Linked DNA regions of Homo sapiens. Each later gene encodes a partner of the first gene's protein in a complex. Each region holds a gene or a part of one and is shown in the gene's direction. Other genes may lie near its edges. The genes, in order: OSGEP and TPRKB.

Region 1 (15,808 bases):
CCATGTTTCCACTAAAAAATACAAAAAATTAACTGGGCGTGGTGGCGCATGCCTGTAAACCCAGCTACTTGGGAGGCTGAGGCAGGAGAATTGCGTGAACCCGGGAGACAGAGGTTGCAGTGAGCCGAGATGGTGCCATTGCACTCCAGCCTGGGCATCAAGAGTGAAACTCTGTCTCAAAAAAAAAAAAAGTACAAAACACATTACAACTTTTAATTGATATTTTAAATAAGCTATTATATCTTGCTACTCTCCCCTCAAACACTTGCATACATAGGAGAGGGCAGCTGACTTGCATGTATCTGAAAAGCCTCCCTGAACAGGTGATGTTGTGACAGATACTCACTAGAAATATATATGTATGTTTAGCATTCACTCCTCTGGGCACTTGGGCACTGGGAATACAAAGATAAATAAAATACTCAATGCTTTGAGATATTCATGATTAAGCTGAGCAAACCACAGAAAATTATAATGCTGTAATTGTTATGTTAAATAAATGACATCATCATGCATAGAGTTCTGTAGGGTCACAGAGAAAGAAGATCACCAAAGGCCAGGCACGGTGGCTCAGGCCTGTAATCCCAGCACTTTGGGAGGCCGAGGCAGACGGATCACGAGGTCAGGAGTTCGAGACCAGCCTGGCCAATATGGTGAAACCCCGTCTCTACTAAAAATACAAAAGTTAGCTGAGCGTGGTGGTGTCGCCTGTAGTCCCAGCTACTCAGGAGGCTGAGGCAGAAGAATCTCTTGAACTCAGGAGGTGGAGGTTGCAGTGAGCCGAGATCGTGCCACTGCACTCCAGCCTGGGTGACAGAGCTGAGACTGTCTCAAAAGAAAAAAAAAAAAAAAAGATCACGAAAGGGTATGAGGTAGATACTACTTGCATTGAGACCTGAAGGCTGAGTAGGGTAAGAAGAAGAGCATTTCTGAAAGTTGAATAGCCTATATAGAAGCCGGAAAGAGTAGATGTGAAAATGTGGAAGATAGGATGCTTGGGGAAAGTGAAAGGACTCTTACTACATCACTAAAACTCCTGTTGCTTTCTTTAACTTCCTACCTACCTTTGCTACAGAAAATCCCTGTGATCTCTGACCTATGTTCATTTTCTAGGATTCCTTCCAGGTGATACAGCCAGGCATCACCGAGCTGTTATCCTAGACCTGCTGCAGGAGGCACTAACAGAGTCTGGATTAACCTCCCAGGATATCGACTGCATTGCATACACCAAGGGTATGGCTGGGAGAGTGGTCAACGATGGAGGAATATACCTGCAACCTGGCTAGGTCAAAATAGCCAACACCTTACCTCTGCCACCATCACTACCCCTACCCCACCTCACATCCCTTATGTCCCCCACTATTGTTTTTTTCCAATCTCTAGGATTATAACTTCCATTTCTATCTCCCTAGGCCCTGGCATGGGTGCCCCACTGGTTTCTGTGGCTGTTGTGGCCCGTACTGTGGCCCAACTGTGGAATAAGCCATTGGTGGGTGTGAACCACTGTATAGGCCACATTGAGATGGGCCGCCTCATCACTGGAGCCACCAGCCCAACCGTGTTGTATGTGAGTGGAGGAAATACGCAGGTATTTAGAGGGCTCTACCCACTCCATCTCAATTTCTGAGGCACTGAACCAGTATTTTCTTTGTTCTATCTGAGTCATGGGAATGTCAGGAACAAAGATGGACTTATCTGAACCTAAAATACTGTAGACCAGAAAACCCCCAACAGAGTTTGTAACATTGCAAATTTTGGCAGCATGATCAGAACATTAGATGGCTTATCATTATCAGACTTTATATCTGATTATAAAGATTAGGAATTTCTACTTCAGGAAAGGAATGAATGGGATTGAAAAGGATTGAAATCTTCAAAATAATGAATATCTGAAAGCTCTTGCATTATTTTGAAGCTTATTTTTTCTATAAATCTTAGCAATTGAAACTAACAGTTGCTGGGTATGGCAACTCATGCCTGTAATTCCAGCACTTTGGGAGGTCGAGGCGGGTGGATCATCTGAGGTCAGGAGTTTGAGCCCAGCCTGGCCAACGTGGCAAAACCCCATCTGTACTAAAAATAACAAAAATTAATTTGATGTGGTGGCAGGTGCCTGTAATCCTAGCAACTCCGGAGGCTGGGCAGGAGAATCACTTGAACCCAGGAGGCGGAAGTTGCGGTGAACCGAGATCGCACCATTGCATTCCAGCCTGGGCAACAAGAGCAAAACTCCGTCTCAAACAAACAAACAAACAAAAAACAAAAAAAAACAACTAAAGGACACTACCTGATTTATTATTTTGGGGCAAGTACATGTTTTGTTTTTATATTACTGGGAATGATTATGTAGACTTTGTTATTCTAAGAGTTTAGAAATATAAATAACTTTAAAAAATACTTTGTAAATTATAGAAGGTATTTTATTTTATCTTATTTATTTATTTATTTATTTGAGATGGAGTTTCGCTCTTATTGTCCAGGTTGGAGTGCAATGATGCAACCTTGGCTCATTGCAACCTCTGCCTCCCGGGTCCAAACTATTCTTCTCTACTCCCGAGTAGCTGGGATTACAGGCACCCGCCACCATACCTGGCTAATTTTTTGTGTTTTTAGTAGAGACGGGATTTCACCCTGTTGGTCAGGCTGGTCTTGAACTCCTGACCTCAGGTGATCCACCTGCCTCGGCCTCCCTAAGTGCTGGGATTACAGGCGTGAGCCACCATGCCCGGCCAGAAGGTATTTTAAATTTATAGGTGAAGCTAAAGTTGTTTGGGTTACCTTATATGACCTTTTTAAGGTTGGGATTGGATTCTTTTCCAACAGAACACTTGATTATCATTAGAAATAGTTCAGCATTGTCCCCAGCTCATGAAAGGGTTGTGTCGAGAAGATGAGGCACATGTTTCCCATGAAAATGATGCAGAAACTTCAGCAGGTAGAGGGCAAGTAGTTGGTTGAGGCCTGAAGGATGACATACAAGGTCAGAGACTTGGGTTGTGGAAAGTATAATGGAGGCTACAAGAGTTGATGAAAGGAGCAGTGACGGTTTTGTCTTCCTCTTCTCTTTTAATGTTTGCTTAGGTGTAAGAAACAGGGAGGGTGATTAGGTGGAGAGGAGTGGATAGCAGAAGCAGAAAGGCAGGATTTTTCCTTCGCCTTTGTTACTGTCTTTTTGACAGCAGATTAAGATCTGTATCAGAAAGGGAAGAAATCCCTAACAGCACTGGGAAGGGAAAGGGACTTCTTAAGGTTCGTAGGAAGCCCTCGGTGTTATAAGTCTGCAGAATATGTGTCAGTAAGGGACAGATATTCTCTGTGCTAAAAGTTGGTCACATATGAAGAACGGCCTTAATACAAAAAAGTGGTGGTGGGTGCCTGTAATTCCAGCTGCTTGGGAGGCTGAGGCAGGAGAATTGCTTGAACCTGGGAGGCAGAGGTTGCAGTGAGCTGAGATCACGCCATTGCACTCCAGCCTAGGCGACAGAACAAGACTCTGTCTCAGAAAAAAAAAAAAAAGAAAAGAAAAATGGCCTTAAGTGAATTGCCATTGCTGACTTGGCTGGGCCATTAGTCTGACTCCATATGAGATTTTTGAGTTCTTCAGCTCTGCTTCTTGGTTCTAAATACCACTGCCCAGCTGCATACGGTGGTTCACACCTATAATCCCAGCACTTTGAGAGGCTGAGGCAGGTAGATTGCTTGAGACCAGGAGTTTGAGACCAGGCTGGGCAACATAGTGAGACCCCCATCTCTACAAAAATATAAAAATAAGCCACACATGGTAGCCCAGCTACTCAGGAAGCTGAGGTGGGAGGATCCTTTGAGCCTAGGAGGTGGAGGCTACAGTGAGCTATGATCACACCACTCCACTCCAGCCTGGGAGACAGAGCGAGACCCTGTCTCAAAAAAAAATTACCACTGCCACTGTGTCATAATTTAGAAGGATTCATGTTCTCTGCCTCCAAGCAGAAAAGCCGGTTACCTACTATCAAGACTGCATTTAAGGGATATATTAGGAACTTCTAAGCCGGAAAACCAATGTATTTGAAATGACAATTTATTTCTGCCTGAACCTACACTGTCTAGGAATCTGTTCCTGGAATCCTCAGGGTATACAGATTTCTTCTCAAATCAGAGCTGTAAAAACTACCCATTCACCATTTGGGAAACACCTTTCTTCCACTTCTTATTGGAAGCCCTGGTGGTCATGTTGATCCTCTGCTATGTTTTTCTCCCAAAGCCAAATAATCCTCTTTACAGACTTGGGGTTTCATGGACTTCCTCATCACCCTTAGGTGATTGCATACTCGGAACATCGTTACCGTATCTTTGGGGAAACCATCGATATTGCAGTGGGTAATTGTCTGGATCGTTTTGCTCGAGTGCTGAAGGTAAGCCAGTGGGGCTGCAGAGAACATAAAATGTGGGTGAATTTTTGGGAAGCCATGGAGGTGGAGGGAGGAAATAGTAAATGAGCTTCTTATGCTTCCTGCATATCTGATTTCATCCTCTTCCATTCCCTCCTTCCTTATTTTTTTCTTCTGCTAGATTTCTAACGACCCAAGTCCAGGATACAACATTGAACAGATGGCAAAGCGGTAAGGGGACATAAGGTGGAAGCAGGCTGGCTGCTGGGGCTTCAGGGATTTCCCCATATACGGTATATATTAACAAAATTTGGGACGGGCTTTGGAGGGTGAGAAGCCAGCTGACTGTAGGCTTAGTGCCTCGTACGCTTATTCCCACATAGAGGCAAGAAGCTAGTTGAGCTGCCATACACTGTAAAGGGGATGGACGTCTCATTCTCAGGGATCCTGTCTTTCATTGAGGTGAGTGTGAGAGGTGATGAGACGGGCACTTTCATGCTTTTTAAATGAAGCATATCTGTTTTACTTACGATTATATTTCGTATAGCTCAGTATATTCATGTAGCACAGTACTGGTCCATATCATGTGCTGGGTAAATTCATTTAGAAGGTATTCATTGAATATCTCTGTGTGCCACATGCTGTTCTAGATAGTAGAGATGCAGCATGGAGCAAAACAAAAATCCCTGTCTACATGGAGCTTAGATTCTAAATGGGGGGCGGGGGAGATAAGAAAGAGGAAAATAATGAAGTGCCAGATGATGATGAGTACAGGTGAAAAATTAAGCAGGATAAGTAAGGGGTGAGAGATGTCAGGACAAGTATTCAAAAAGTAATGATTGCATCTTAAATGAAAGCTGCTCATTCTATGCCATGATGCCAGTGAAGGGAATGTGGTACAGGATGTGCTGGTAACTTGAATTGTGGTGAAACATGATGACCCTCCGAATGCATTAATTTTTGCTCTCGTGTAATCCCAAAACCATGATTTGTTGATTCTTTTGTTTTTCCCTTTAATTGTAGGATGTAGCCCATCGGATGCTGGCCACAGGCGAGTGTACTCCTGAGGATCTGTGTTTCTCCCTGCAGGTAATGCAGTAAAAAACTGGGACAGAAAGTTGGGGCTGAAGGTTTTATATTGTAGAGCAGAACTAATCTGGGATGCCCCTCTAATATTTTCTCCTTATCTGTCCCTGACAGGAAACTGTGTTTGCAATGCTGGTAGAGATCACAGAGCGAGCCATGGCACATTGTGGCTCCCAGGAGGCCCTCATTGTGGGAGGAGTGGGGTGTATGTATTATTGAAAAGTGTTCCTCTTTCCTATTCTTAACACTATGCGTCTTCCTCCTGGTACTCTAAATCATTAAGCGTTTGGAGTAGGCTTCCCAATCCTTGCCCCTAATCCCCTATGTCATTGTTCTAAGTGAGTGCACATGACGTGTTCTGCTGGACCATGAAGAGATGGCTAAAACTAAGCTAATCCTGTTCCCTGCCTCTTTGTAGGTAATGTGAGGCTACAGGAGATGATGGCAACAATGTGCCAGGAACGTGGAGCCCGGCTTTTTGCTACAGATGAGAGGTAAAGACACTTTCCCTTTGGTTTCTTTTTTACTTCTCCTGTTATAGTGATTTTCCACCCTTAGATCCCAATTTTCATCTCTCTTGCATCCCAGATTCTGTATTGACAATGGAGCGATGATAGCCCAGGCTGGCTGGGAGATGTTTCGGGCTGGACACAGGACCCCACTCAGTGATTCTGGGGTTACACAGAGGTGAGTGATTCACCTCTTGGTGAGGGTAGATTATTGGGACATAGACAAAAACAGCAGGGAAGAGTCCAGGAACATGAGGGCAGAGAAGAATGAAGGATGTTAAGGGCTCGCTCTCCACCATGTTTCTTCTGTTTTTCCACAGGTATCGGACAGATGAAGTAGAGGTGACCTGGAGGGACTAATAAGATCAACAGAATCAGAGTAGATAGTTCCTTAATCGGAACCCAAAGGACCCCGTGCCTCAATCTCTATCCTGATGTCATGGGAGTCCTAGCAAAGCTATAGACTCCAAGCAAGGCTTGGGGTCCTTTATGGAACCCCAGGATGACTCAGCAATAAAATATTTTTGGTTTTTTGGTTTTGTATGTTGGTGATTGGATTGTGTTGTTCAGGACCAATGTAGATTTGGTGCTGGATAAATTCTTGTTGGAGCTTGCTGCTGTGGAACCAAGAATGAGGTATCTTTTTTTTTTTTTTTAAGAAACGGAATCTTGCTGTGTTTCCCAGGCTGGTCTCGAACTGGGCTCAAGCAGTCTTACCACCTCAGCCTCCTGAGTAAGGATGCCATTGTGCCTGGCAACAATAGTAGTATCATAACTATTATTATAGCATCGGGTCCCGTGCTAACTGCTTTACATTCATTCTCTCATTTAAATTCTTTGAAGTAGGTGTGCAAGACTTCTCTCAAAATAGCCTGGAGGCTCACACCTGTTATCCCAGTGCTGTGGGAGGCCAAGTCAGGAGGATCCCTTGAGCCCAGGAGTTTGAGCCCAGCCTGGGCAAATAGCAAGACACCATCTATTTGAAAAATGTAAAAATTATCTGGGCATGGTGGCGCACATCTGTAGTCCCAGCTCCAAGGGAGGCTGAGGCGGGAAGATAGCTTGAGCCCAGGAGTTTGAGGTTGCAGTGAGCTGTGATTGAGCCACTGCATTCCAGCCTGAGTGACAGAACAAAACCTTGTCTCTTAAAAACAAACAAACAAACAGCCTGGAGATTGGTCTAACTTGTAACTCTAAAACTGCCTCTACTCCGTATACTTTCTCCTACATGCACATCCATCGGCAGGCTTGAGGAATGCCCGCAGATGCACATCCCTCCGTACCACAAACAACAGAACGAATCTCATACCCTTAATCTTATTGATGTTGATATCAATCATCACAATTAGTCCTAAACTACTGAGTCATCTCATCTTTTACACTTAATAACCATGTATCTCCACTCTGTTTTGTCTCCATCTACCTACCTTTTCCAACTCTAGAAGCTCTTCCACTGTGCCCTCTGGAACTGATGGCCAGTCATTTGTCAAATTCTCTGTGTCCTCAACCTCTTCTCTGAACGTTCCCTTCACATTTATGCTCTTCAGACTTGGTTTCTTATGAGGACTCTGCTTCTCCTACCACCTCAGTAGTGGTGGCATTTTCCCTTCCACACCCAGTGTCCCACTGGGCCTGGAGGTGGTGCACGTGTCCTCATACTGTTTCCAGACCATTATCCCTCATCCCTAGTACCCTTCTGCTTTGAAAGAAACTACCATACGAACACCACGTTTGTCATAAATCTTATTTCAGTATTCAGGTAGATCATACTAACACCCGCTTCAGCCACTTATTTCCTTGGTCATGTTCTGGAGCTGCAGATCCTCCACATCTCAGTTTCAGACGTCCCACTCTCGACTACCACCACCTCCTGTTCTTCCAGTTCATTTTCTTTAGTATGCTAAATCCAACAGTTCATCCCTTCACCAGGACCTACGGTCCATTGATCATACTTCCTTTCTGCAGATTTTATCCCCCACGTATTTTTATTTCCCTCCTTCAGCTAAATTCCCATAATCCACCTCATTTCCCTTCCCCTCTTTTGCTTTTGTCATATTCAACTCATCACCTACTTTAGACCCATGCAGCTGAAAGGGCTAGTAAAAAATAGCCATGCTGACTGATCTTACTTCAAACTTACGACCATGACACTAAAATGGGTCCTTTATGCCACCCAGAAATATGCCATCTCTCTAGTCCTTTCACTTGCCCTCTTTTCTAGTGACTGTTTCATACCTTCTGACCCCTCAAATCTCTTAACATCTCCCCCTATTCTGACTCTTACCTTAGTTCCTATTTCAGTAAGAAAATAGAAACAATCAGTATACATTTACAAGCTTTTGCCCCTGAAACTAACCATCTTCCAGTATCTGTACCCATGTACTCTGCCTTCCTCCTGTTACCATAAACCAGTGGTTCTCAACCAGAGCTGATTTTGCTTCTCAGAGGACACTGGATTGTCACCGTCGATAGGAGGATATTTTACTGATTAGAAGTCAGGGCTGGTTGCAGTGGCTCACCCCTGTAATCCCAGCACTGGGAGGCCAAGGCGGGTGGATCACTTGAGGCCAGGAGTTCAAGACCAGCCTGACCAGCAATGGTGAAACCCCTCTACTAAAAATACAAAAAATCAGCTGGCATGATGTTGCATGCCTGTAATCCCAACTACTTGGGCACGAGAATCGCTTGAACCCAGGAGGCGGAGGTTGCAGTGAGCCAAGATTGTGCCACTGCATGCCAGCCTGAGTGACAGAGCAAGACTCTTTCTCAAAAAAAGGGATAATTCTCCCTCTTTTCCTGGAGAGTCAGTATTTCCTTCTCTCCTGAATCCTGCCGTCCACAAATATGCCACTGTTTTCCTCATTTTACAAATAATGCCTGCTTGTCCCCATTTGCCCTTCCAGCTGCTTCCCATTTTTCTGTTCCACTTTACAGCAAAACTTAGAAAGACTTGTCTTCAATTTCTCTCCACCAGTTCCCTATTAAATCTCCACCAAAACTATTCTTATCACAGTCACTGATGACCTGCACATAGCTAAATCTAATGGCGTATTCTTCATCCTCAGAAGCTATCAGCAGCATTTGACACTCCCTCTTTGAAAAGTTTCCTTACTTGGCTTTAGGATGCATTCTCTGGTCTGCCTCCTAGCTTACTGACTGCCCTTTCTTAATCTCCTTTGCTAGTTTCTCCTCATCTCCACAGAGTTTAGTCCTCAGACTGCTCTCTTTACACATACACCTGTAGTGACTTCATCTAGTTGTATACATTAAAATCATTTTGATGGGGGTTACTCCCAGTTATAGTTCCAACCTGGACTTCTATCCCAAATACCTAGCTGCTCATTGGCACCTCCACTTGGATGCTTAATAGGCGTCTCAAATTTAACATATTCAAAATTGCACTTATTCTTTCCCCAACTTAGTCCTGTAGTCTTTCTTATTTCTGTCAACGACAACTCCATTCTAGTTGTTCATGTCAAAGTATCTTTGTCAGTTTTCTTTCTTCTCCAATTAATCAAATCCTCTTGGCTCTACCTTCAAAATACATCCAGAATTCCATTTCTCCTCACTTCCACTGCTGCCACTGTAGATCAAGCCAGAATTATGTGTCTTCAAGATTATTGCAGTAGCTGCTCCTTCTCCTTTCCCCATTGCCAACTTAGAGTCAATTCTCCACATAGCAGCCAGAGTGAATAGTGTTAGCGTGGAAGCCAGATCATGTTACTCTTCTGCTCAAAACCTTCAGTGCTTTCTTACATCAAAAGAAAAACCAGAGTCTTTTTATTTATTTTTTTTTAGTATTTATTGATCATTCTTGGGTGTTTCTCGGAGAGGGGGATTTGGCAGGGTCATAGGACAATAGTGGAGGGAAGGTCAGCAGATAAACATGTGAACAAAGGTCTCTGGTTTTCCTAGGCAGAGGGCCCTGCCGCCTTCCGCAGTGTTTGTGCCCCTGGGTACTTGAGATTAGGGAGTGGTGATGACTCTTAACCAGCATGCTGCCTTCAAGCATCTGTTTAACAAAACACATCTTGCACCGCCCTTAATCCATTTAACCCTGAGTGGACACAGCACATGTTTCAGAGAGCACGGGGTTGGGGGTAAGGTTATAGATTAACAGCATCCCAAGGCAGAAGAATTTTTCTTAGTACAGAACAAAATGGAGTCTCCCATGTCTACTTCTTTCTACACAGACACAGCAACAATCCGATTTCTCTATCTTTTCCCCACATTTCCCACTTTTCTATTTGACAAAACCGCCATCGTCATCATGGCCCGTTCTCAATGAGCTGTTGGGTACACCTCCCAGACCGGGTGGCGGCCGGGCAGAGGGGCTCCTCACTTCCCAGAAGGGGCGGCCAGGCAGAGGCGCCCCCCACCTCCCTCCCGGACAGGGCGGCTGGCCAGTCTATTTAAAGGCCTGTGAGACCCTCTGTGATCCACTCTGCCCTTCCCTGCCTACCACTTTGATCTGCTACTCAATTCCTTGTTTGCGCTGCTCCAGCAACACGGGCTTTTCTGTTGGCCTTTAAACACCACAGTTGTCCTCTGAGGTGGGAGGAGAGTATTGGGTACTTGGTAAATGCAGAGTTCATTTTCTAGTCCTTTCTGGTTTATATGTCACTATCTTCCCTCTCCTATTCTCCCTGGAACTTGGAGAACTTGGGACTTCCTGGGGAGCCATGGAGTCCCTACCTTCATCATCACCGAGCCAGTACACGTCCACTGCCCTCCGGCCTTGCTTGGATTGGAACATTGAGGCTGCTGGAATAAGGATGCTGCCCGAGAAAAGAGAAGAAAAGAATGAGACAAACTCCTTTCCAGCTGAGCAGTTGCTCCTAATTCAGTATAATACCTCTCCTCCCCTATGAGAATTATTGCTATCCTAGAGAAACGTCATGTGGCTTCTCTCCGCATTGACTAACCGCATTTCCTTTTTATTTTCCTTGGTGTCTGCTTCTCTAACCCGCTCTACAACTCTGTTATTCCTAAAAACAGGACATGTTTTAGAATTGGTCTCCTGCCTGCTAAGTATCCATCCCTATGACATCCAAATATGCTGGGTGTACTGGGAAAAGTGGGGGTATAACACAAAATAATGTTATCTTTTTGCTAAGGATGCCCAAAATTTAACTGATAAGATGTGTAATATTATTAGAATTGGGGTAGTGCCAGAAACCCTTCTCTAGAATTGGGCCATAGCCCTTCCTGACCACACTCCAGCTTACCCTGCTATGTTGTATCTTTTGATCCAAATTTCTCCCACCTGAATTTAGAAGATACCTTTAAAGTTTTCCCCCACCCTGAAAATTTCAGGAGAACTAAAGCTCAAGCAAAATTCATTTCTCTCGCATCCTGGTACCCAATTCTATTCAGTCTTAGGTCTTGGTAACTCTAGATGAGTTCATTTGCCTCCCAGACTGTCTTTGAGAGCCAATTTCTATACCTCCCACACCACATCCTTCTCTTAGGCCCACCTCTTTTCACTCACCTTGAGCTTGGTGTTGAGTAGCCGGGCTTAACCCTCCTGGCATCCTTATGAGGCCTATGCCATAGTTGTAGTCAAAGTCATCACTTTATGGAGAGGAGAGAAAAAGAGATATAGGAGGAAGAGATGAAGGGGTGGGGGTCTCTTTCCTGGGGACACAGGCACTGCTGGGCAGCTGTTGGGAACAAGGGCTTCACCACGATTATATTTCCTCTTCTTTCTAGTTCCTGACCATTTCTATGTCCATCTTACCCTTCTCTATCTCACATTCGCACTAGAATGCCTATGTAGTACTCCATGGCAGATACAGGCCCTTTCTCCCAATTTTGCTTATATCCCAAGACCAGCACATTGGACTTCAGTTGGTTCAAACATGAGACCTGAAAGGAGAAGCAATGAGGAAAGAAGGGGATATGGTATGTTGGATGAGAGGTGACAAGAAGGCTTCCTTTTTCTCCACTACCCCGCCCAGATTTCAGGAAGCTAGTTTCCTTCTGTGTCTGAGCAGATAACCCTGCAGAGGTTCATGGTTCTTGCCATGGCCTTTCCCAAAAAAGCCAAAAGTTTGCAAGAACCAGTCATGTAGTATTAAAGAATAAAGTGGACCAAGTGGGAACTGTGGCAAACTGGAGAGCACCTGCCTTGTCCCATGGGACAGGAGCTACTCAGCCCCAGCTAACTGTGTCATGTGGGTTGGAGGCCCAGGATTAGCAGATGCCTGGATCTTAAACGTTGGTAGTTTATTTTAAAAATTGTAAATGCTGTGCAATCAAAAAACTCATTTCCAGGCAACATTCCGTCCATAGGCCACCGTTTTCAATCTCTCATCTACAGACTTCCTGACTGGAAGTTCTTAATGTGATCTTACACATTGGTGAGGCTCACTGAGTAGGACAGCGCCATTTGGTAGGTGTCTGCCTGGGCTGAAGAGCCCCAGTTCACAACTGTGCAGAGAAAGGGGTGGTGCATCAATGGTGAGGTAGAAGAGGAAACACTGTTCGTAGTTCTGGGCTTCTTCTAGGGGCCAGCCTCCTGTTGTAACTCACTTCCTGACTCCCTGCACACCCGCCTACTCACTCACCAGGTTTTGTAGATCATATAACAGCAGAAGGGTAAGCAACACAGTAATCAGTGTTGCCCGCCATGTGAGGAGGAATGTGATGAGCAGGCAGAGCAGAGAGCCCAGGAGAGAGACCCAGGGACTTTACCTGCAGAAGGAAAGGCGCCAGCCTGCAGGGGACAGCAAATGTAAGCCCTTGTCTTAGCCCCAGCACCACCCACTCATGTACCGCAAGGATGCTCTCCCAACTCCCCAGGTCTTTCCAGCCCTAGAGCTTACCTGAACACCTGCCCACACTAACCAGACAACCAGGTAAGGGAGGCGTAGAGACAGCCAAAGTTGAGGGCACAGGAACAGAGGAGGAAGTTGGCGATGGTGGGGGCAATGATACTCAGCTCGGCTTTGGGGGAGATGAAAGGTCAGGAGTGAGTCTCCACACTAGTGTCATAAGATGCAGGTCTAGAAGTCCAGGACATCATTTTATGGTTTTCTCCATTCTCTCTATTCCCTTCTTACTCCTCACTCCACCCCCACACACATACCACCCCTAGCAGTGCAAGGTTAGGAGACATTTTTCGTCCACTTTCAGGAAAAGAGAGATAGAAAAGAGGTTTTAGGATCAGCTCCTAGAAGCCAGAGGTAGGGCTGGGAAGGGCCTGAGAGGAATGGTGATTAATAGAGCCCAGTGTGGAGGGTGGGGTGGGGAGTAGTCACCGATAAGGATGAAACCTACAGCAGTGAGGAAGGTGAGCAGATAGCCCCACAGAGGCTCGTGGTTCTTGCCATGGCCTTTCCCCCCAAAAAAGCCAGTGATTGTGTATGGTTTATCCTGGCACAGCTGCTGCAAGAGGTCTTGGTGATCAATAGGGGAGGGTCCCAGGAAGTAGGAGAATGAGAGCCCTCTCCCTCTAAAGAGGCAGGAGAGTGGGAAGCATAGACAGAAGTCAAGGGAGTTTAGGGGTCAGAGGCAGAAAGGATAGGAGTAGAGGGAGTAGGGGGTGGTAAGATCCCTGGGAATGAGGGATGGGAAAAACTGAGAGTGGGGAGGTAGATAGATGAGTGACACCGGGCCAGGCCTGGGGGCTCACGCCTGTAATCCCAGCACTTTGGAAGGCTAAGGCGGGTGAATCACAAGGTCAGGAGTTCGAGAACAACCTGGCCAACATAGTGAAACCCCATCTCTACTAAAAATATAAAAATTAACTGGATGTGGTGGCACGTGCCTGTACTTGGGAGGCTGAGGCGAGAGAATCACTTGAACCTGGGAGGCGGAGGTTGCAGTGAGCCGAGACCATGCCATTGCACTCCAGCCTGGGTGACAAAGTGAGACTGTGTCTCAAAAAAAAAAAAAGAGTGACACCTTCCCCATACTTTCCCTTGATTTACAGGCAGACTTTGAATGTTGCTATGTGGGCTTGGATTATCTCTTTAAACATTAGCCAGCCACAGTCATCTCCATCTCCCAAAGTTACCTTCTAACTCCCAGTTGCTGAGAACTGAGCCGTCTTTTGCCCCTCCTCAAAAATTATACACTTGGGATGACCGTGTCTACTAACATTCTTTCCTTTCTCTTGCAAGCCTCTTGCTAAGATCTCAACTAGCCTGGAAGATATTAGGGGCTGAAACAAAGCAGGAAAGGGTACAGAACAGAATGGCTCTCAAGATTCCAGCAGACATCAGAGGGCTAAAGGCAGACACCATGTTCATGGTCTGAGGAAAAGGGCAGACAGAGGCAAAAATCAATGCCTTTCCAAAGTAATGCATTCCACCCGTATTTTCACCTAGTTTTCCCAGACTTATTAAAATTTATCTGCATCTTTGAAGGTTTTGCCCCAAATTAATCAACTTAAACATCTATGCTATGCCAGGCAATGGGCAAGGTTTCTCTCTCTACACTTCCGCTCTGGTTCACTCACCTCATAGTGATTAGAGAGCCCACAGAGGCAGGACCCTTGCTCTCGACAACTGCTGAAATCCCAGCCATACTGGCACTTTGCGCCCAGGCGGCTCCCATTCTGCACACCCATGTCAGTCCTATTTTCGGAAGCACGTTGAATCATACAGGAGCCTAGAAATGAGATTGAGGATACACATTTCTTCATGGGAAGAAAACCCCATCCCAAAGCAGTAGGGCTATCTAGGTACCACCAGTACCAAAAGGGGAAATGAAAATGTTTGTGTGGCAGGGGTTGGGGGAGTGAGGAAATGACCAAATGTGATCATCGAAGAACACCATACAATTCATTAACAGATATGAGGGATGGGGAAACATGAAGGGAGGAGCGGGAGTCACTACAGACTCACCAGCCTTGATTTTGCCGTTGCTGGAGATGGCTGAGATAGACAATCCAGTGACAGTATGACTGAGGCCAAGAACAGGATGATGAGCCATGTGAGCCCTGGGGTGAGGATGGGAATTTATTCATACATGCACATCCCTTCCTACTGCCCAGGAGAGCTCTGAGCTCATACCTGTGCCTGCCTGAGCAGCGATCCAAGGCAGCTGCAGGTAGAGAATGATGCCCCAGATATTGAGCATACAGCAAATCTGGGGAGCGGGGTGGTAAGGGAGGGGTTGCAGTCTCCAGTGTGAGTCCCACCCCTTGCCCCCTTCTTCAGAGGTACCTCCCAAAAACTCCCCTGGAGCAAAGAGTTCTCGCCTGCCTAGATCCCCAGACTTAGGGAACCATGAGCGCCAATCCATTACCATGACTCCTATGACCCAGCTGAAGTGCACTGGGGCCTTGCCGATTTTGGCCCCAGAATTCTCCAGATCATCTTGGGAGTGTGGCTGGGTGTGGGTTTCCTCTCGAGGTGGACGTGGCACTATTTCTTGGCTGGGACAGCACATACATAACTGAAATGCCAAGACCCCTTGCTAGCCAGCGCGTCTGCAACCAGGAGGACAGCTAATGGACCTGGAGGGCAGTCCCAGAGCTACATGAAGGGTGGTGGTAGCCCACAGGCAGATGTTATCCTACCTTCAGGAGTTCACTGTGGGGCCTGGGTCTTACCAAGCTGTATGGAGCCATCCCAGGACTACGGAGTTGGCATAGAACTCGTAGCAGGGTCCAGTGTCCTCATCCTTGTAAGCAGTTGGTGAACAGAGGCTGGCTCGGGGTATGTCTCCACCAGATTGCAGTTCCTCCAACTCCTGGTTGGGGGCCAAGATGCTGGCCACATTGTCTTGCTCTGGGGAGGACATGAGAGGCATTCGAAATGTCTGAACTGGGAAACAGGGTGCAGAGCCTGGACACTATCTCCCCATTTGCTGGCCAGGATAACCATAAACTGCCTC
Region 2 (16,745 bases), on another chromosome or scaffold:
TCGGCTAAGTAAATGCACTTGGCAAACACTCCGTGTGTCCTCCTGGCTCACTGTGAAGCCTGCGGTGAGGTAATGCATTACATCACATTGCTATGCATCGTTCCTTGCTTCATTTACCTTTTTCCTCGCCCTCACCTCTCTGTTCTTACATATCCCAAATAAAATACCAGTGCTTACATGTGCCGTGTTGGTGTGCTGCACCCATTAACTCGTCATTTACATTAGGTATTTCTCCTAATGCTATCCCTCCCCCATCCCCCCACCTCATGACAGGCCCCGGTGAATGATGTTCCCCGCCGTGTGTCCAAGTGTTCTCATTGTTCAATTCCCACCTATGAGTGAGAACATGCAGTGTTTGGTTTTCTGTCCTTGTGATAGTTTGCTTAGAATGATGGTTTCCAGCTTCATCCATGTCCCTACAAAGGACATGAACTCATCAATTTTTATGGCTGCATAGTATTCCGTGGTGTATATGTGCCACATTTTCTTAATCCAGTCTATCATTGATGGACATTTGGGTTGTTACATATGTAACAAACCTGCACATTGTGCACGTGTACCCTAGAACTTAAAGTATAATAAAAATAAATAATAAATAAAATACCAGTGCTTTAATCCTTGCCTTGGGCTCTGCTTTCTAGAGGGCCTAGGTTAAGACACCCAGATATTTGTTTAAAAATCTGACAGTCATAAGTGTTTAATCATTCAGACATGTGTATGACAGCTGGAAGTACCACATCTCTCACTGATTTGACATTGAAGTCCTACAAATATTTATACCTTTTAAGAATATAGAAATGTCAGTTACATCCAACATAACAATTGATCAAGAATTACAAGTTTCATTTTCGAAGTTATTTTCACAAGACATGGGGATTGTGTTTGGAGTCTGGGTATCTTACCTGACCCATTTGTTCAGATAACATTTCCAAGGTTAGATTCATTTTAACACATGGTAACAGTTATGCATATTTATACAAGTCTATATATTGCAGAGAAGAATAAAGTTGATATTGTTTTGAAAGCTCTCATCTAACACCTTATCAAATTAGATCTTTTGAACTAATTTTATGGTACATAACCCTTGCAAGTCATAAGGGATCATTTTTACCTCTGAGATGACTTAAAAAATAGTCAAATAGTAAAATTCACCTCTTTTAGTGTACAGTTCTACAAATTTTGACAAATGCGTAGTTTTATAACCATCACCACCACCACCACAATCAAAATATACAACCATTCCATCATCCCCTAAAATTCCCTCATGGCATTTTGTAGCAATCCATTCTCACCAACCCCAGACTTTGGCAAATGCTGACCTATTTTCTGTCCCTATAGTTTTGCTTTTTCTAGAATGTTGTATAAATGGAATAACAGAGTATGTAGCCTTTCAAATGTGGCTTCTTTCATTTAGCATAATGCTTTTGAGCTTCCTCCATGTTGCTGAGTAGATCAACAGTTCATTCCCTTTTGTTGCTGAGTATGCTGTGGATATACCACAATTTGTTTTCCATCTACTAGTTGAAGGATATTTGGGTTATTTACCAATATTCGAATTTTGAACAAAGCTGCCATAAACATTTGCATAGAGATTTTTGGGTGAATTGTTTTTATTTCCCTTGTACTGGGATTGCTGTTGTGGGGTAAGTGTATATTTAATTTTATAAGGAACTGCCAAACTTTTGCAAAATGTCTGTATTACACAGCATCCCCGTGAATAAGCTATGAGAGCTCCAGTTGCTCACATCCTCACCAATACTTAGTGTTGTTAGTTTTTTCTAATTTTAGCTGTTCCAACAAAAAGATGTAGTGTCTCATGTTTCTTAAACAGCGTTAGAGAGATAATTGACATGCAATATGCTGTATATTTTTATAAGCATACAATTAGATTCACATGACATATACACATCCATGAAGCCATTACCATAATCAAGGTAGAACACATCTATTACTCCACAGTTCCCCCACACTCCTTTGTAATCCTCCCTTTGCATCCTAGAACCCCTACTCAAGCGACCACTGATCTGCTGTCACCATAGAGTAGTTTTACATAAACGGAATCATATAGTATGCACTCTTTTTATGTCTGGCTTCTTTGATTTGGCATAATTATTTTGAGATTCATCCATGTTGCTGTATATAGCAATAGCTGACTTCTTTTTATTGCTGAGTTGCAGTCATTGTATGGATGTGTGACACTTTGTTTATCCATTCACTCGAACATTTGGGTTGTGGGTTGTTTCCAGCTTTTAATAGTTAGAAACAAGCTGCTATGAACTGAGACAACTTTTTTTTTTTTTTTTTTGGAGATGGAGTCTTACTCTGTCACCCAGGCTGGGGTGCAGGGTGCAATTCTGGCTCACTGCAACCTCTGCCTGCTGGTTTCAAGCGATTCTCCTGCCTTAGCCTCCCGAGTAGCTGGGATTACAGGCGTGCGCCACCATGCCCAGCTAATTTTGTATTTTTAGTAGAGATGGGGTTTCACCATGTTAGCCAGGCTGATCTTGAACTCCTGACCTCAGGTGATCCACCTGCCTGGGCCTCCCAAAGTGCTGGGATTACAGGCATGAGCCACCATGCCCGGCCAAGACAATTTTTTTATTCCATGGGACTCTGCTTGATATGAGACAACAATTTTTATGTCTGTTTTCGAATCAACTTTATTGAGGCATAATTTGTAGTTTATAAAATATGCTCTTCTAGGCTGGGCATGGTGGCTCATGCCTGTAATCCCAGCACTTTGGGAGGCCAAGATGGGCGGATCACAAGGTCAGGAGTTCGAGACCAGCCTGCCAGCATGGTGAAGCCCCATCTCTACTAAAAATACAAAAATTAGCCTGGCGTGGTGGCGCACCTGTAATCCCAGCTACTCGGGAGGCTGAGGCAGGAAAATCGCTTGAACCTGGGAGGCGGAGGTTGCAGTGAGCCAAGATCGTGCCACCGCACTCCAGCCTGGGTGATAAAGCAAGACTCTGTTTCAGAAAAAAAAAAATTATATATATATATTTTTTAAAATATATTAAATATATATTATATATAATATACTCTTCTAAAGTATACCTAATTTGATGAATTGTAACAAATTCATACTTCCTTGTAACTGACACCACATCAAGATATAGAACATTGGCTTCACCCTAAAGATTCCCTTTGGGTCCTTTCCAGTCAGTGTCTCCCACTTCCCTATCCCAAGCAACCACTGATTTGCTTTCAGTCACTCCATAATAAATCTGTAATCTCTAGCATTTTGTAGAAATGAAATCATATGGTAATTTATTTTATTTTATTTATTTATTTTTGAGACAGAATCTTCCTCTGTCGCCAAGGCTGGAGTGCAGTGGCACAATCTTGGCTCACTGCAACCTCTGCCTCCCAGGTTGAAGCGATTCTCCTGTCTCAGCCTCCCGAGTAGCTGGGATTACCGATGCTTGCTACCACACCCGGCTAATTTTTGTACTTTTTGGTAGAGACAGGGTTTCACCATGTTGGACAGGCTGGTCTCGAACTCCTGACCTCAGGTGATCTTCCTGCCTCAGCCTCCCAAAGTGCTGGGATTACAGGCTTGAGCCACCGTTCCCAGCCTAGTAATTAATTTTAGATTGTCATTTTGCTGAGCACATTCTAAAGACTCATCCATGTTGCAAGTATTGTTGGAAGTATCTGCAGTTCATTCCTGTTCATTACTGAGTGGTATCTCACTGTATGAATTTGCCACAATGTGTTTATCAATGTATTGTTGGGCATTGGTTATTTCCAGTTTTTGGCTATTATGAGTAAAGTTGATATGAACATTCAAGAACAAGCTGCAGGACAATTCTCCAGGTCACCTTAGACTCGCCCAGTTCTTCCCTCTTTCTCACGTGTGTTCTCAACAATAACTGTAGAATGTGCTGGGAATGCAACATCCTGCGATAAAGAGGGACTGACAAGAACAGCTCACAGGCTCTCTCTGTTCCTGTCTGCCTCTGAGAAACAAGATGTCCATCAACACTTTTGCCCAGCGTGTCATGTGGTCCCCAGGGTATTAAATCCAGTGTGGGATGCTTTCTAGTGTCCCTCAGCTGCAGTGCAAGTGGGACACATGCCCCACTTGTGAGAATCCATCCACCCTCGGTAGCTTTCTTGAGCCTTGGGAGATTGGCTCACAATGAATTCCGGGCTTCTGTTGTGCCTCAGGGCCAATCTGTAAGTAATAAACCCACTTCATGTAACTTGTGTGTGGGCATTCCATCTTACCATCTCATTGGACTCAGGCAAGTTGATAACCAGTGCACAATGAGCCTGCTTCACAAAATTGACACAACAAACAGGGTTCAGTCTAACAGAACCATGTTTTCCTGGTGAAAGGAGGTGGTGATGTCAACCTGTGGGTGCAGAGGCTGGACTTGCAACTGGACATTTTATGGGAAAGGAGGGGTGATACGTGAGACATTAGGTCACGTGCAAACACACCCTGTGGATGTGACTGAGCTGGCTGAATGGGTGGAAGCAGAGAGAAAGTAAGGTGGAGCTGAAATGCCACACAGGATCCCTTGGTTGTTAGCCACTTATGTGATTGCTCATTTCCAGGGCTGATGATTGGGGACCCAAACATACCCTAAGGCACTTAAGAGAAAGAAGAGGGATGAGGTACTCACATGGTCCCTGAAGCATCTGAGAGGAACCCACATGCACAACGTGGCCCGTCACAGAAAGGGAGACTCAAGTCTAAAGGACCACAGTCTTAGACATGGAGAAAGGCCAAGGAAGTCACATGCATCCTGGTTGATGAATATATTTGATAAAGGGACATTGCAAACCCAAATGTCTTGGGCTGTATGGCACGGGTAGGAATGGGGCCCAAGGTCTCTGGATCCCCACCAGAGGCCAATGGCTCTATACTCCTATTAAGATAAAATGGGGCCAGGTGCAGTGGCTCATACCTATAATTCCAGTACTTTGTGGGGCCAAGGCAGGAGGATCCCTTGAGCCCAAGACTTAGAGACCAGCCAAAGCAACAAAGTGAGACCTCGTCTCTACAGAAAATTTAAAAATAATTAGGTGTGGTGGTGTGCTTCTGTAATCCCAGCTATGTGGGAGGCTGAGGCTGGAGGATTGTCTGAACCTGGGAGGTTGAGGCTGCACTCCAACATGGACAATGGAGAGAGATCCTGTCTCAAAAAAAAAATAAATAAATAAAATGGGGAAAGATGGAAATTCTGATTTCTTTCGAGTTCTTGGATACTGAAGGCCACATGACAGAATTTCCAGGTTCCTTTAGGGGAAAAATTAAGCTGGTGACACCAGGAAGTTTGGGGATGAACTCGGTGACACATAGTGTTTATCTGCTTGTGGTGCTTATCTGCTTGTGGGTGGAGGCCTTTGGGCCATTTCAGGTGTCAGTGACCATGGTTCCCACCACTGAGTGCTTTATAGGCATTGACATTTTGGTGGCTTGTGGCACAGAATGTCACTGCCACCAGAGGGGCTATGACCCCTAACAGCTAAGGATTTGAGCCATAACAGTGGGGCACATCCCCTCCCACCTACCACCATATCTTGCCACATTTTTACTGACTCATGGGCCATTGCCAACAGCCTAGCCATCTGGTCAGGGGAATGGCAGCAGTGATTGGACTATTAAAAGATTCCATGTGTGGGGACAAGGGCTATGGCAACAGCTTGCTGTTGGAAGGGACTCTATATGCCACTCATGTGGATGCTCTGACTACCACAGCTGCCCTTGAGAGGACTTATGTTTTTGGATACCCCATGGGACTTCACTCTGACCAAGGAAAATCCTCACTGCCCAAGCAACATGACAGTGGGCACACTCATGCAATACAGTGGGTTTTCCATGCACTCTGTCATCCACAGGCCAATGGAGCCATTGAATGATGGACCAGTCAACTCACAAAGCAACTGAATAAAGGACATCAGGACAGCCTGTTAGTGGGGTGGCACCTCAACCTGACTAGGGCAGTGTGGACACTAAGCACTGTTCTCCAATCAAGGGAAACACAGCACTGCACACATCTTGAAAAACGCTGAGCTTGATGTGGATAGAGGTGGACCAGGTGACTGCCTGATGAGGCTGCACCTGTGAAATTCCAATCTCAGTGTTCCCAACCATTGTCTTTTCTTTTTCCATTTAGAGTGCACATCCTGTAGGTGGCCGGTGGTTCAAGCTGCCAGAGCACCCGACAGGCCCCTCTGACTCTGATCTAGAGGTGATACGTCCCCCGGGTGCCTCTCTTCTATGAAATCCACAGGGATACAGGACAGGACCAAGGAGTATCAGGGTGCTAGGCTTAGTGGCACCAGGAACACCTGATCCTTCCATTCAGGTAGGTAACCTTATCAGACATGTCGAGTTTGTACAAGACAAACCTTCCCGGACTGGACGACTGAAGCCAAAAGGCCTGGGTCATGCAACAAGCGGAATGGGTACTCTCGGGACTGCAGCAGTCAGACTGGGACACTACACTCAGCTCAACCTCTATCACATAGGTAGGGAATACCCGAGGATGCAGGAAGTGTAAGGGGCAGGGCACTAACCTGTCAGTCTGCTTTTTCCACAAGGACGTGACTGCAGAGGCCTAGAAGCATAACGCGTTTGTTAGGCTCTCCCAAGCTGTGGCTACCATAGGAAAGTGCTGGATCTGTCATCCCAGACCCCATTATGTCACAGGCTACAGCAACCTTCTCGTCCTGCCAGTAGTAAACTCTACCAGTATTATAGTGGCACAGTGAATATCAACAGAACCTGAGCCCTGGCTTACTGAGTGAGGATCTAACATCTGCCACATGGGAGGGAGGTAGACTTAATTGGCCTAAGGTGGCAAAACATCATGACAACTAATAAGATCTTGGTGGGCTGGCACCTTTGACCTATTATGTTCTTACCTGGATCACTGGATCCTGGACTAGGTTGATGCTCCAGACAGACCTGATCAACCTGTTTGTGATGTAGTCCTCCTGGGCCTAGTAAAATGTATTCTGGCTATGGCTCAACAATGTTGTACTGACATTGTGTCTGTGAAGGTGTTACATCGATCTGATAAGACAAACTTCCGCCTCCAGATACTAGGAGGTTGGTGGGCATATGAAACGGACTAGCTTTGCTAAAGGGTATAATCTGGGTTAAGGGCATAGACTGCAGGACAGTTCTCCAGGTGGCCTTGGACCAATTTAGTTCTCTCTCCTTTCTCACTTGTGGTTCTCTAGGATAACTGTAGAATGTGCTGGGAATGTAGCATCCTGTGATAGAGAGAGACTAACCAGACCAGCCAGGGCCCTGTTCCAGTGTCTCCCAGAAATAGAATGTCCTTCATATATATATGTATATATATATATATATATTTTTTTTAATTTTAATTTTTATTTATTTATTTTTTTTTGAGAGGGAGTTTCACTCTTGTTGCCCAGGCTGGAGTGCAATGGCGCGATCTCAGCTCATGGCAACCTCTGCCTCCCCAGATCACGTGATTCTCCTGCCTCAGTCTCTTGAGTAGCTGGCATTACAGGCATGAGCCACCATGCCTGGCTAATTTTTTATTTTTTAGTAGAGACGGGGTTTCTCCACGTTGGTCAAGCTGGTCTCGAACTCCCGACTTCAGGTGATCTGCCTGCCTCGGCCTCCCAAAGTGTTGGGATTACAGGCGTGAGCCACCGCACCTGGCCGAATGTTCTTCATGTTTTAGCCCAGTGTGTCATGCCTCCCCACCTCTTCCCCCTGCCCCTGCCCCCTGCAATTAGGCTGTTGCATTGCCACAAAGAAATACCTGAGACTGGGTAATTTATATAGAAACGAGGTTAAATTGGCTCATGTTTCTGCAGGCTGTACAGGAAGCATAGTACCACCATCTGTTTGGCCTCTGAGGAGGCCCCAGGGAGCTTTTACTATTGGCAGAAGGAGAAGAGAGAGCAGGCACATCACATGGTGAGAACTGGACCAAGAGACTGTGTTGGAGGGTGCCACACACTTCTAAATAACCACATCTTCCTGGCACTCACTCACTATTGCAAAGACACCAAGCCATGAGAGATCCACTTCCATGACCCAAACACCTCCCATCAGGTCCCACCTCCAAAAATGGGGACAATTCAACATGAGATTTGGCAGGGACATATATTCAATCCATCCCTGGACCCCCAAATCTCATGTCCTTCTGACATTGCAAAACATAATCATGCCTTCCCAATCACCTACCAAAATTTTAACTTGTTCCAGCATTAAACTCAAAAGTCCAAAGTGTCACAGGAGACATGGCCCAGAAAAAGAACTAATCCCAGCTCCTTGGGAGGCCAAGGCGGGTGGATCACGAGGTCAGGTGATCCAGACCATCCTAGCTAACACGGTGAAACCCCGTCTCTACTAAAAATACAAAAAATTAGCGGGGCGTGGTGGCGGGTGCCTGTAGTCCCAGCTGCTCGGGAGGCTGAGGCAGGAGAATGGCTTGAACCGGGACGCGGAGGTTGCAGTGAGCCGAGATTGCACCACAGCACTCCAGCCTGAGTAACAGAGCAAGACTCTGTCTCAAAAACCAAAGAAATCTCCAGCAGCGGAAATGTATGTAGAACTCATTTTGGTCAGTACTTTTCCTTGTACAGGAAGAAACTGAGGTCGCCCGGTGCAACGCCCAACACAGGTTAAGACAAAGCCGAGACTCAAAACCAGACCCCAGCTTCCGGTCCCAGCCCATAGATTCTTCCATTTCCTTCGCCGGAAGTGATATACAGCCCCTGTTCTCCTTCGCGTCCGTTGACGGGACCCAGGTTGGGGAGGCGGAAGAATGGGCGGGACCATGGGCGGAAGCACCCCTCCTACCAGGACCCGGAAACAGATGGCCACCCCGAGCCGGCCTATCCGGAAACTGGCTCGAAGAAGACGGGGATTGGCCATCGCTTCCGGAAGTTGTGAGCTTTGTTTCGGAGCGGGAGCTCTTCCGAGACGCACTGGGGGCCGGATGGTGAGTTTTCCTTGCGCTCTAACGGGCAGGCTCGGGAGCGGGAGGGTCCGGGCAGTTTTAGTAGTGTCTTTGGGACAACGGCTGCGGTTGGTATTTCTCAAGCGGCAACGAGGCCAGCCCCTGGGAATGCAGCACGAGAATGATAGAGTCAGGCTGTCCCCTCAAGAAATAGTTTAGTGAGGAGACATGCAGCGGATAGGCGCAGGATTCTTCAGAGTTGTGATTGGGCCCAAAAAGGAGCTAGTCCTCAGACTAAAAAGAGCCGTAGTGCCGGGGTTCTGGGCGCTGTAGTAAATGGACTCCAAATGGAGTTGAAGGGAGGGAGGAGTGCGTCAGGCGGAGATGAAAGGAGAGAGGGAACTACCTGTCCGATAGGGCAGAATCGGGGAGAAAGGTTGGTGACTTGAGCTTAGAGAAGGCCATTGCGGCGGTAGCAGAAGAGGAGAGGCAGGGACCAGATCGTAGAGTGTGGAACACCGTGACACAAAGTTGGGGCTTTATCATAAGAGCAGCAGAATGACAAGATCTGATGTACATTTTGAAAGGATCACTGTAACTGCTGGTGACGACTGGATTATAGGAGGGCAGGAATTGTGAGAAACCACTCAGAAGGCTACTGCTGTAGATGAGCGATGTGACCTAGCGTATGGGAGAGAAGTGGACGAATCAAAAGTATATTTAGCAGGTGAAAATTCAGGACTTTACGGATTAGATATAGGATTTGAGTGACAGGTTGGGTCTCAACGATGATTCCAAGTTTCTGACCTGAGTGAGTAAATTACGCTAAACAAGAACAAACTATTTTGAAGTTTTCTAAGGGTTCTTCCCCCCACTCAGTGTTAAAAAGCACGTTTTTTTCCTTTCTTATTATGTGTACTCATGTTTTGTGTGCTTACTGTAGAAAATTCAGAACATACATAACAAAATATTTTCTTTTATATAAAGGACAATAAAAATCACCTCATAACCTCACTACCCAAGATGGTCATATTTTAGTGTTTCTTTCATGTATTTTAAAAAAATATGTGTATCTTTTTATATAATTGGGATCCTACTGATTATGTCTTTCTGTATCCATTTTTTCCACCTTAGCATGACTAATGATTGAACTGTGTGCCAGGATATCGTTCACAAATATATTTTTTTCTGTTTGTAACAGAAAAAGTCAAATTAATTCTAAATAAGAGATAACATTAACTTTTTGGTGTATTTTCTTTTTAATATTTGTTTAAAAGCCTTTTAAAAAACCCACATTTTGGCCAGTTTGTGTTTTGTTTTCCATTCAGATGTTTTTACTTACTTAATGTTATTTATTGCCGTTTTTACACACCGTCAAGACCACATGTTTTAATGGTTGTTAAATAACAACTAATCCCATCATTAGCTAGATAGGTTATTTGCAACTTTTTACTGTTAAAATAATGAGAGGAACATCTTATATAATTATTGGATTCCTAATGACTTCCATCAGAAAGAGTTCTAGAAATATAATCTGCCAGGTAAAAGGATAAAATGAGTCTCAAATTGCCCCACCAAAATATTTTATTAAGAATTTGATAGAAATTGTTTTAAAGAAATTTTTGCAATACATAGTTTTTCCATTCAAAGATATGGTCATGTCTTTCTGGTTATTCAAGTTGTCTTTTATGTTTCTTTTATGTCTTTATATATAATAACCTATCCTTTTCTTGTTAAGCTTATGTCCAAGAAAGGAGCGACATTGATTATTTAATAATTGTACCCTCTCTGCTTAATTTCCATGCGTGGAATGAATATCTTTGGGTCAAGTGGGATACTTTATCCTTTTTTTTTATTTTTATACTTTAAGTTCTAGGGTACATGTGCACAACGTGCAGGTTTGTTACATCTGTATACATGTGCCATGTTTGTATGCTGCACCCATTAACTCATCGTTTACATTAGGTATATCTCCTAATGCTATCCCTTCCCCCTATTCTTTTTTTTTTTTGAGACGGAGTTTCACTCTTGTTGCCCAGGCTGGGGTGCAATGGTATGATCTCGGCTCACTGCAACCTCTGCCTCCCAGGTTCAAGCGATTCTTCTGCCTCAGCCTCCTGAGTAGCTGGGATTACAGGCATGCGCCACCATGCCTGGCTAATTTTTTTGGCATTTTTAGTAGAGACGGGGTTTCTCCATGTTGGTCAGGCTGGTCTCGAACTCCCAACCTCAGGTGATCTGCTCGCCTCGGCCTCCCAGAGTGCTGAGATTACAGGCATGAGCCACTGCACCCAGCCTACTTTATTCTTTAAAATTATTTTCTTCCTTAATATTTATGTCTAGGCCTTCCTAAAATATAAATAAAATGATGAGATCAGGAAGTTAAAAAGACTAAGATAGAGTAAGACTTCATTAATACCGTAAGCAACCTCTGGTTTAAAAAATTCCTGACATTCTGCTCCTACTTGTCTGCTGGGGAAGCAGCCCTTCAACCATGCACCTGAGCCTGCCTCATCTGAACAAACAGCAACCAGCTGGGCCCCTTGGCGTTTCCCTGGGGATGACAACAGAACAACTCAGAAGGGTTAGGAAGACAACATCTCATGAGGATGCCAAATGGGCTTTGGCGATGGATTTTTCTAGTTTAACACTTTTATCAAGTTACTTTCAAAGTTTTTGAATATTTATTAAGAAATGAGTTCTGATGTTAACTTTTAAATGAAATCTTTTGGTCTTTTCATTTTGTGTGCAGTAGAATCCTGCTTATCTGTGAAATGCAGTTAACACATCAGCTGGACCTATTTCCCGAATGCAGGGTAACCCTTCTGTTATTTAAAGATGTAAAAAATGCGGGAGACTTGAGAAGAAAGGCCATGGAAGGCACCATCGATGGATCACTGATAAATCCTACAGTGGTAAATATAAATTTTAAGAATGAATGAGCCTGCTGGGTGCGGTGGCTCACGCCTGTAATGCCAGCACTTTAGGAGGCCGAGGCGGGTGGATCATCTGAGGTCAGGAGTTGAAGACCAGCCTGGCCAACATGGTGAAACCCTGTCTCAACTAAAAATACAAAAATTAGCTGGGCGTGGTGGCGGGCGCCTATAATCCCAGCTACTCGGGAGGCTGAGGCAGGAAAATCATTTGAACCCTGGAGGCAGAGGTTGCAGTGAGCCAAGATTGCGCCATTGCACTCCAGCCTGGGCGACGAGCAAAACTCTGTCTGGAAAAAAAAAATGGCCAGGCATGGTAGCTCACGCCTGTAATCCCAGCCCTTTGGGAGGCCGAGGCAGGCAGATCATGAGGTCAGGAGTTTGAGACCAGCCTGGCCAATATGGTGAAACCCTGTCTCTACTAAAAATACAAAAATTAGCTGAGCATGGTGGTGGGCACCTGTACTCAGGAGACTGAGGCAGGAGAATCGCTTGAGCCTGGGAGGCAGAGGTTGCAGTGAGCCGAGATTGTGCCACTGCACTCCAGCCTGGGCAACAGACCAAGAATCCGCCTCAAAAAAAAAAAAAAAAAAAAAGAATGAATGAGCCATACAGGGCATTTAAGTATACATTAATATTTGTGATGTTATAGGGTAGCCTAAAAATCTGTCACGGTTAGGGAAAAAATTCTTGTCCAAGTCAGATGCAGCCAACTTTGACTATAACAGTGAATAGAGGCAGAAGTGCCAGGTCCTGCCCTAGGAAATAGGAAAGGTTGTGGTCTGGGTCTAATATGGGAAATGCCTGGATCTCCAGCTTCTCATCTTTAAAATGGGGGTTCCTAACAAGACAGTCTGTAGAGGAGGAATAGTGTAGTGGTTAAGAGTACACACAGAGGCCAAGGTGGGTGGATTGCTTGAGGCCCGGAGTTTGAGACCAGCCTGGCCTACATAGTGAAACCGTGTCTCTACTAAAAATACAAAAAGTAGCTGGGTGTGGTGGTGTGTGCTGGTAGTCCCAGCTACTCGGGAGGCTGAGGCACAAGAATCATTTGAACCTGGGAGGCGGAGGTTACAGTGAATTGAGATTGAGCCACTGCATTCCAGCCTGGGCAATGGAGCGAGAGACTCTGTCTGTCTCCAAAAAAAAAAAAAAACAAAAAAACAGGGCACACGCAGTGCGATCATGTTACCGGGAATTAATCCCAGACCTACTACTTAGGCCTTTGAACAAGACATAACCAACCTTTATATAGTGCTTACTGCATTCCTAGCATTGTTCCAAGTGCTTTACGTATACTAACTTGCTTAATCTTCACAACAGCCTATGGAGTGAATACTGTTTCATCGGTCTCTAACAAATAAAATGCTAATGAACTTGCATAAGTTTCCTAGGTGATAGGTGACAGAGATGGGATTCAAACCCAGACATTCTTTGCCTCAATTTCCTCATCAATTACATACTACTACTACTGCTACTACTACTAATAATAGTGTCAATTTCATAGGGTAGTTTTGAGGATTAAAGAAAATATTACAAGTAAAATGTTTGCAATATGATCATGCCCATAATATTAGCCCTCAATTAATGTTATTTAAAAAAATTTTACTATTTGCATAAGTTCCTTGCAGCTTTAAAATTCTGTGATTTCCTGACTACCCAGGCCCTTGGGATAATAGTTGTTTTTTGTTTTTTTTTTTTTTGAGACAGTTTCACTCTTGTTGCCCAGGCTGGAGTGCAATGGCGCGATCTTGGCTCACGGCAACCTCTGCCTCCCGGGTTCAAGCAATTGTCCTGCCTCAGCCTCCTGAGTTGCTGGGATTACAGGTGCGTGCCACCACGCCTGACTAATTTTTGTATTTTTAGTAGAGAGGGTTTCGCCGTGTTGGCCAGGCTGGTCTTGAACCCTGACGTCAGGTGATCTACCCACCTTGGCCTCCCAAAGTGCTAGGATTACAGGTGTGAGCCACCGTGCCCAGCCGGGATAATAGTTTTGAAAATACAGACCGTAAGAATTGTGATGAAGTAAAACAGCTTGACACTGGAGTTAACCATGAGTTACCATGTGTTTTCAGGCACTGCAGATTCTCCATGTGTAATTAATTCTTTTTCCTTGCTTTGGTAGATTGTTGATCCATTTCAGATACTTGTGGCAGCAAACAAAGCAGTTCACCTCTACAAACTGGGAAAAATGAAGACAAGAACTCTATCTACTGAAATTATTTTCAACCTTTCCCCAAATAACAATGTAATGTGCACTTTCCTATTTCTGTTGACCGTGTCATAATAACATATGTGTTCCTCAGTGTTGGGTTGGAGGCTAAATTCCTGCAAGCCAGTGGTTAGTAATAAACCCAAATAATAGTGAAGAGAGCTCTGGACAGAGAGTTGAGGTTTAACCCTGCCTCTTACTAAGACAGTTTACATATGAGTAAACAAAAATTTAGCTAAATTAAGCGAGGTTAATTTTATCTGTTCTTACCATATAGGGTCAGGAAGACCCCTCAAGTATTTTTGCTTGAGAAGCTGACAGAAATCTAAATGATAAAACATTAGGCGTGGATATTTTGTGTGCTAGCCTGCATATCATTCTCTCTTCCCGTAAACTCCTTGAGGGTGGGATCCATGTCTTTTTCATATACCAGGAACTTGCTTGTACCTATAACAGTCCTTAACACAGCCTCACTCACACACCCAGTACATAGGTAGAGTTTGTGGTTTGAAATACTTATAGTAATGCTTTTTCAATGAAAGTTATCAAGCTAAAGACATCACACATGTAGCACATGAAAAAAATGACTGCAATTTTGCTGATGAAGTTTTAGTATTACTGCTGCTGTTAATAACAACCAGGTACTAATGTCATCTACAGGAAACCTGTAGCATAGGTTAAAATACAGATGATTGACAAGTTTATAAAATGCAGTTATCTCAGCATGGTAATAGAGATTCCCAGTACCTGGAATAAAATTTACTAATTATGGTTTCCTTGAGATCATTAGACATAATTCAGAAAACTCTTGAATTCAGTAAACATCTGTTGAACTTTTTCCCCGTTCCATTTACAGTTCTAGGGGCAGAAGAGGCAAATATGTTCCTGAGGAGAGGCAGATAAACAAGACAAGTTAAAATGCCCTAAGATAAATGATATAATGGGAAAATGAATTCAAATCTAGGGGTACAGCAATGAAGCCATTCATTTTGGAGGGAGGAGGGTGTGGTGGGGAGTGGCATCAGAACTGTGGACCCTGAAGCATGTGTTCAGCAGCCAAGCCATGAGGAGAAGGGACATGCGAGCAGAGGACAAAGCTTGAGCACAGGCAGAAGGGCATGAAATGTGACTGGATCCCCAGGCAGGCTGGACTGGCCAGAAGGCAGAAGCGCCTGGCTGGAGGGCCACTTGGCACCAGAGGGAGGAGGTGTTTTTGTGCAGCGCCAAGAGGCTGGGCTTGATTCCATAGGAACAAGGCGTACCTTTAAGCAGGGAGTGCTTTTGAGGAAGTGCCAATGGATGTTGGAAAGGAATCATTAAAGTGAAAAAGTAGGCAGTGAGAACTGTTAGGACATGAAAAATAAGAGCCTGACCAAGGAAGAAGGCAGATCAGGAAATGTTTCAGACGTAGGAAACAATGGTTAATGATCTTGTGTTTTTTTTTTCATTTTTTTTCTCTTAGATTTCAGAGGCTTTGAAAAAATTTGGTATCTCAGCAAATGACACTTCAATTCTAATTGTTTACATTGAAGAGGGAGAAAAACAAATAAATCAAGAATACCTAATATCTCAAGTAGAAGGTCATCAGGTTTCTCTGAAAAATCTTCCTGAAATAATGAATATTACAGAAGTCAAAAAGGTTTGCCAGTCCATATTTTTAGAAAGAGTGTGATAGATGAGCAATAATGCTGATGCCGTTTGCCTATTGATCACCAGAGCTCCTTGTTTTTTGAACTTTTGAGAAAGTTAATCTAATTTTAAAAATTACTTAAAAATTACAGATACAAAGAACTGGGAGGTGTGATGGTTTATGTAAAATATAATTACAAACTCAGCTGACATAACCATTCTCCACATTAAGAAAGAGAATACCTTTAAATATCAAACTTACATAGTATATTTAAAATGTAAAATAAATTTAGTATGCTTTTAAAATGGATAGAAATTTGGTTTTTATGTTCTTGAGAGTTACTCCCATAGCAGCAATTTAAAGGGGATACAAGTAATGAATTGCCCTCTACTTTGAATATTTTAATCACATTTGTTGTTTGTTATACCATGAACCCAATAATTGAATGAGGAATAATTTCACTTACACATGTTTGTATAATGACAATTAGTAGTGAATGACGATATCAGCAAGTCATAATTTGTCTTTCATTTTTACAGATATATAAACTCTCTTCACAAGAAGAAAGTATTGGGACATTATTGGATGCTATCATTTGTAGAATGTCAACAAAAGATGTTTTATGAAATGTCAGAAATATTAACAAAAATTCTCAGCATTAAAGAAAACATTGATTTTCCTTTCCTGACTATAAAACTAATTGTGCATTATAGAAAAGTTTAAATCACAGAATGGTATTAAAAAAAAAAAAAAAAGGCCAGGCACGGTGGCTCACGCCTGAAATCCCAGCAATTTGGGAGGCCAAGGCAGGTGGATCACCTGAGGTCAGGAGTTCAAGACCAGCCTGGCTAACATGGTGAAACCCCATCTCTACTAAAATACAAAAATTAGCTGGGCATGATGGCAGGTGCCTGTAATCCCAGCTATTCGGGAGGCTGAGACAGGAGAATCGCATGAACCTGGGAGGCACAGGTTGCAGTGAGCTGAGATCGTGCCATAGCACTCCAGCCTGGGCAGCTGAGCGAGACTCCGTCTCAAAAAAAAAAACCAAAAAAAAAAAA

The links.
Region 2: OSGEP (region 1) and TPRKB share a complex: the UniProt entries of both Homo sapiens proteins name them as parts of the EKC/KEOPS complex.

The regions. Positions count from the first base shown.
Region 1 is NC_000014.9:20,437,754-20,453,561, reverse strand, and holds the end of OSGEP (tRNA N6-adenosine threonylcarbamoyltransferase), read left to right. Parts: intron 1-1,113; coding exon 1,114-1,233; intron 1,234-1,412; coding exon 1,413-1,588; intron 1,589-4,295; coding exon 4,296-4,391; intron 4,392-4,548; coding exon 4,549-4,598; intron 4,599-4,750; coding exon 4,751-4,829; intron 4,830-5,390; coding exon 5,391-5,456; intron 5,457-5,567; coding exon 5,568-5,658; intron 5,659-5,871; coding exon 5,872-5,947; intron 5,948-6,041; coding exon 6,042-6,140; intron 6,141-6,282; coding exon 6,283-6,322; 3' UTR 6,323-7,161; downstream 7,162-15,808. UniProt on the Homo sapiens protein: Component of the EKC/KEOPS complex that is required for the formation of a threonylcarbamoyl group on adenosine at position 37 (t(6)A37) in tRNAs that read codons beginning with adenine.
Region 2 is NC_000002.12:73,729,508-73,746,252, reverse strand, and holds TPRKB (EKC/KEOPS complex subunit TPRKB), read left to right. Parts: upstream 1-8,907; 5' UTR 8,908-8,951; intron 8,952-8,991; exon of another isoform or gene 8,992-9,037; intron 9,038-9,496; exon of another isoform or gene 9,497-9,636; intron 9,637-11,661; 5' UTR 11,662-11,683; coding exon 11,684-11,824; intron 11,825-13,548; exon of another isoform or gene 13,549-13,552; coding exon of another isoform or gene 13,553-13,669; intron 13,670-13,967; coding exon 13,968-14,090; intron 14,091-15,516; coding exon 15,517-15,693; intron 15,694-16,223; coding exon 16,224-16,310; 3' UTR 16,311-16,380; downstream 16,381-16,745. UniProt on the Homo sapiens protein: Component of the EKC/KEOPS complex that is required for the formation of a threonylcarbamoyl group on adenosine at position 37 (t(6)A37) in tRNAs that read codons beginning with adenine.